2 separate regions of the Homo sapiens genome follow, and region 1 is linked to region 2. The links come from fine-mapping of genetic effects on gene expression. A gene starts in region 2. The other region holds a variant in brackets. All regions are shown on one strand. Distances are between the middles of the regions.

What was found. PIP is the estimated chance that this variant, and not a neighbour inherited with it, causes the effect.
Region 1: its variant is the best candidate, but not a certain one, in a credible set for the expression of PHF14 in monocytes after R848 (Quach 2016, PIP 0.68).

Annotation. Positions count from the first base shown.
Region 1 is chr7:10,993,280-10,996,182 of GRCh38, reverse strand. The region is part of intron 4 of PHF14 (PHD finger protein 14); the gene reads right to left. Among named protein-coding and RNA genes, the nearest start is that of PHF14, 21 kb to the right of the region's middle. The variant T/A (reference allele first, on the strand shown) is at 1,200.
Region 2 is chr7:10,972,666-10,975,568 of GRCh38, reverse strand. It overlaps PHF14 (PHD finger protein 14), which reads right to left and starts at 1,697. Exons shown (of 18, transcript NM_001007157.2): 1 at 1,245-1,697; 2 at 624-734. The coding sequence starts at 1,245. RefSeq lists silencers at 853-902, 1,883-1,942, 2,453-2,502 and an enhancer at 1,633-1,927.

The DNA of each region.
Region 1 (2,903 bases), 21 kb before region 2:
CCCAGCAGTCTGAGTGATCCTTCCAAAACATGAATCAAACCATATTAATCCTCTGCTGAAAAGCCATGTTATGGCTTCCCACATCCATCATAATGATAGGTGACAGCGTGCTGGCAGCCCTCACAGCCCTCGCTCACTCTTGGCACCTCCTCGGCCTTGGCGCCCACTCTGGCCGCACTTGAGGAGCCTTCAGCCTGCAGCTGCACTGTGGGAGCCCCTCTCTGGGCTGGCCGAGGGTGGAGCCAGCTCCCTCAGCTTGCGGGGAGGTGTGGAGGGAGAGGCACGGGTGGGAACCGGGGCTGTGCAAGGCGCTTGCGGGCCAGCGCGAGTTCCGGGTGGGCATGGGCTTGGCGGGCACTGCCAGCCCCGGGCAGTGAGGGGCTTAGCACCTGGGCCAGCAGCTGTGGAGGGTGCACCGGGTCCCCCAGCAGTGCTGGCCCGCCGGCGCTGCTCTCAAATTCTCGCCGGGCCTCAGCTGCCTCCCTGCGGGGCAGGGCTCGGAACCTGCAGCCCACCATGCCTGAGCCTTACCCACCCCGCCATGGGCTCCTGCGTGGCCTGAGCCTCCCTTATGAGTGCTGCCCCCGCTCTGTGGCGCGGTCCCATCGACCACCCAAGGGCTGAGGAATGCGGGCACACGGCATGGGACTGGCGGGCAGCTCCACATGTGGCCCTGGTGCGGGATCCACTGGGTGAAGCCAGCTAGGCTCCCGAGTCTAGTGGGGACTTGGAGAACCTTTATGTCTAGCTAAGGGATTGTAAATACACCAATCAGCACTCTGTGTCTAGCTCAAGGTTTGTAAATACACCAATCAGCACTCTGTGTCTAGCGCAAGGCTTGTAAATGCACCAATCAGCACTCTGTATCTAGCTAATCTGGTGGGGACTTGGAGAACCTTTATGTCTAGCTAAGGGATTGTAAATATACCAATCAGCACTCTGTATCTAGCTAATCTGGTGGGGACTTGGAGAACCTTTATGTCTAGCTAAGGGATTGTAAATACACCAATCAGCACTCTGTGTCTAGCTCAAGGTTTGTAACACACCAATCTGCACCCTGTGTCTAGCTCAAGGTTTGTAAATGCACCAATCAGTGCTCTGTGCGGACTTGGAGAACTTTTGTGTCTATCTCAGGGATTGTAAACACACCAATCAGCACCCTGTCAAAACAGACCAATCAGCTCTCTGTAAAATGGACC[T/A]ATCAGCAGGATGTGGGTGGGGCCAGAGAAGGGGATAAGAGCAAGCTGCCCCAGCCAGCAATGGCAACCCGCTCGGGTCCCCTTCCACACTGTGGAAGCTTTGTTCTTTCGCTCTTTGCAATAAATCTTGCTGCTGCTCACTCTTCGGGTACGCGCTGCCTTTATGAGCTGTAACACTCACCGCGAAGGTCTGCAGCTTCACTCCTGAGCCAGCGAGACCACGAACCCACCAGAAAGAAGAAACTCCGAACACATCCGAACATCAGAAGGAGCAAACTCCGGACACGCCGCCTTTAAAAACTGTTAACACTCACCGCGAGGATCCACAGCTTCATTCTTGAAGTTAGTGAAACCAAGAACCCACCAATTCCGGACACAATAATAAAATCTAAAATCAGTACCGGAATCTGCAAGACCCCAGCTGGATTACTCCCATCTCTACTCCCACCACTAACCAGCTTGCTCACCCAGTTCTAGCCATACAAACTTCTGTGCCATTATACAAACACTCTTAAGCATGCTACCACTTCAAGATCTTTTTTTTTGAGACGGAGTCTCACTCTGTTGCCCAGACTGGAGTGCAGTGGCTCGACCTCAGCTCACTGCAACCTCTGCCTCCTGGGTTCAAGCCATTCTCCTGCCTCAGACTCCTGAGTAACTAGGACTACAGGCACATGCCACCATGCCCAGCTAATTTTTTGTATTTTTAGTAGAGATGGGGTTTCACCATGTTGGACAGGCTGGCCTTGAACTTCTGACCTCAAGTGATTCACTGCCTCGGCCTCCCAAAGTGCTGGGATTACAGGCGTGGGCCATTGTGCTTGGCTGAGATCTTTACATTCACTACTCCCTCCACTTGCAGTGCTCGTTCCCAATATATTTAAGTGACTTGCTCCTTTACTTCCTTCAGGTCACTGCTCAAATATCCTCTTATCAGAGTGGATTTCCCTTAACAACTTTTTTTTTTTTTTTTTTGAGACAGAGTCACCCTCTGTCACCCAGGCCAAAGTGCACTGGCGCAATCTTGGCTCACTGCAGCCTCCACCTCCTAGGTTCCAGCAAATCTCCTGCCTTAGCCTCCAGAGTAGCTGGGATTACAGGCACGTGCCACCATGCCGGATTAATTTTTGTACTTTTAGCAGAGACGTCGTTTCACCATTTTGGCCAGGCTGATATCAAACTCCTGACCTCAGGTGATCCGCTTGCCTTGGCCTCCCAAAGTGCTGGGATTTACAGGCATGAGCCACCGTACCCAGCCCCTTATCAATTTTTACAAATACAAACTTCTGCAACTCACCCAACCACCCTCACACACAGCATTCCTATACTCCTTGTCCTACTTCATTTTTCTTCAGAATCTGGGCCACCAACTAAGAGATATTTATTGGTTTGTTTACTGCCTGTCTGTCCAGACATTAAGTTCCACCAGGTCAACAATGTGTACATTCTATTTCATATGCCTAAAATTTACAGAATACCAAGCACATAGAAGGTACTCAACAAACATTACTAAAAATATAAATGAATAACAGTAACTGGAGATATTCCCACAGTGAGTGTTAGCAGCAAAAAAAGGGCAGCTCCACATGAAGATCAGAGCATTAGCTAGAGAATCACAGATCATGCAAAGTCCCACAAGTCCAGCAGACTCCCAGAATTACTTGGGACAAGGGCTGTAATACCAGAAAAGCAGGTAAGAGAAAG
Region 2 (2,903 bases):
ACTTTTCTGTTTTCCAGTTTAGTACAATGTGAATATACGACCTTTAAAAAAAGTTTTTAAAATTACTAAATATAGTGAGCAAGCATGCATGACTTATACTTCAGAGACATCTGAAAGGCCCAATCCACAAGGTCCAGCACCTACTATAATTTGAAGTGCAACTCTTACTCTGGTCAATTTTATTCTAGTAAAAGAGCTAATACACAAAAAAAGCAAAACTCCCCTAAGAGATTGTCAAGTGATCTGAAAAAAGAAGAACCCTGCTCAGGGACTATTAATGGTCCACACACCTCTCAGGATACTTTTCTACTTCGGGATATCTTTCAGTTTTTTCCTCTATAATATAAGCATAAATATATTTTAAGGTGTAAAACAGAGAAATCCTTTTGCATCTTTGGAAAAAGTCCTTCCCCTGACTGCTAATTATCTCTGAGGAAAACAGAAGCAATTATAGGTCTAGTGACAGGATCTAAAGGCAAAATGGGAAATCAAATGGACAAAATAAATGAAGTTTACGTGCTTTCACTTAAAATTGGCATTTTAATCAAAACCGATTTAAAAAGTCTAAAAATAAGCCTAACTCCAGAAAGCTGGGAAAGGGGAAGAGAGAAGGAAATATTTACCTGAGGCATCTCCAACTTTAAAATCACTGTCATCTGAACTATCATAATCAAGAGCTTCCAGCAGAGAAGCTGCCAAAGGCTTCACCTGCCTCCTCTTGGAGCTGCGATCCACTGTGAAGAGAAAAAAATTACATTGTCATTCATAATCACACCAAACACAGGGGAGAGTTGTGGTGCTAAGAGAACATAAAGATGACCTCGCACAAGGAATTTTTGTCTAACTGAGTTCTCAGCAAAAGGGGTCAGGAGAAGGTTGGGGTGCAGAAGCAGGGTGGGGAGGGCTGGACAGCTCCACGGGCAGTTTCAAAGGCAGCTCCAGCCCTGATGCTGCCAACGCCAACTCAGACCAGCTAAAATCGAAGCTGACCCTCTTGCTCATCTTTTCGAGATGTTTCTGCACCTTCCTCGTAATCCCCCACTTAGACATCGTAACAGTCAATAAAAACGGCAAAAATCAGGGAATAAAACAAGCGGGCTTCATTCCCGCGGACCATGGAGGGCGAGGGTCCACCAATCCTGCTTTCCCGCAGGACTCTCCCACCCCTGCCCTGCTCCCACCGGCCCTGACTTCTAGAATGGCTGAAATGGACCTCTCGCCGCAGAGGCCTCGGATACACTTACTAAGGAATCCGTGAGGTGGTCGTTTGGAGAAGACTTAGGGAGAGGCTGCAGGAGCCCAGGCAGCGCCGAGGTCGGGGACTGGGGCCGCGAAGACAAGTCCGAAAGATGCTATTTAAAACCGGCGCGCAGCCAGCCGGACAGGGGCGCTCCCAAGAGTAGCCCCGCGGTCCCCTAACCCCCCGCCCCCCCGGCCTCGCCTGGCCCTGGCCGCTCGAGCCCCTTCCCACAGCGCTCCCTGGCCGGAGAAGACCTCCGGCCCAGGCAGCGCAGTCAACCCGGCGGCCCCGGGGAGTTAATTTCTCCCGTTAAAACTAGAAGAAAAAAAATTAAAGAAAGAAAAACTTTATTAGCCTGGACCAGAAGCAACGAAAGACCAGAAATTGCACAGCGCGAGGGCGGCTGCCTCAGACAATAGGGAAAGCAGCGACCCGGATACAGCTCTGAAAAGGAAGTGAAAACACGAGGCTGAGCGCAGCCCTGAGAGCAGCAGGAATTGAGGGCGCATGCGCAGGACTCGCCCCCGCGCACCCTTCCCGAGCAGGAGCCGAACAGAGCCGAGTGAAAGCCCAGGGAGCCGCGCGGAGGCGAGCGGAGCCGAGTAGTGCCAAGGCGGAGCAGAGATCCCCGCCAAACCCTGTGCAATTCCGCCCATAAACCCCAAAGGCTCCGCCCTCTCCGCGCCTAATTCACCTCCTGAGTCCAAATCCCTGGGAGGCCAGTTTTTGTTTCTGATCTGTTTTTTAAGGATTTACTGAGTAAACGTTCCACAAAGGGATGTTTGCTACCTTAAGCCACTACCAATATTTAAATGATATTGTCACCGGTAGAGGATCGTGACTGCAAGTTGTCCAGGTTCTTGGCGTTTTTAACAAAGAATTGGACAAAACGCCCAGCAAAGCAAAGAAAGAATGAAGCAACAAAACAACAAAAGCAGGGACTTATTGAAAATTAAAGCACGCTCTGTACGGAAGCGACCTGAGCAGCGGCTCAAGGGCCCGGATACAGAATCTTGAGTCCAAATACCCTCTAGAAGCTTCCTATTGGCCACCTAATGCTCACCTCATGTAAATGAAGTAACGCGCAATCAGTCTGATTGGTTGCAGAAAGCAGCCAACCAGAGGCTGAAGTGAAGTTACAAAGGTCATGCTCCTGTGCAAACATTGGTGCAAAAAGCAATCAATCAGAGGCTAGGGTGAAGTTACAAAGTGGTATACCTCTATGCAAAGGAAGATTTCCCCTGCAATCAGTTTGATTTCTTGCAGATGGTGAAGTTACAAAGTGATACTTCTATGCAAAGGAAGACTCTCCTGCAATCAGTCTGATTTGCTGCCCACAGCCAATTTCCCATCTGCCCTGCAGAAAAAGTGGGGGTTTGCAAAGGGAGTAGCCTCTGGTCCTTTTGTTACTTAGGCATGGAAAGTTAGGGGTTTCCTTTCAATTTAGTTCTTAGGAAGTCGGAGTGACACATCCTTAGGTTCCCTGCCTCCACACCCTATTCTCCTGCCTCACTCTCACCCAAACTATCATTGCCATGTGACCTCTCAAACTTTTCTATTGTGCTATAGAAACTTCTATTCCAAAATGTATAACCTACTTAGTAAACATTTTTCCTTTTCAATGCCCATTCTTTTTACCTCCTCATCTGAAATAGAAACAGTT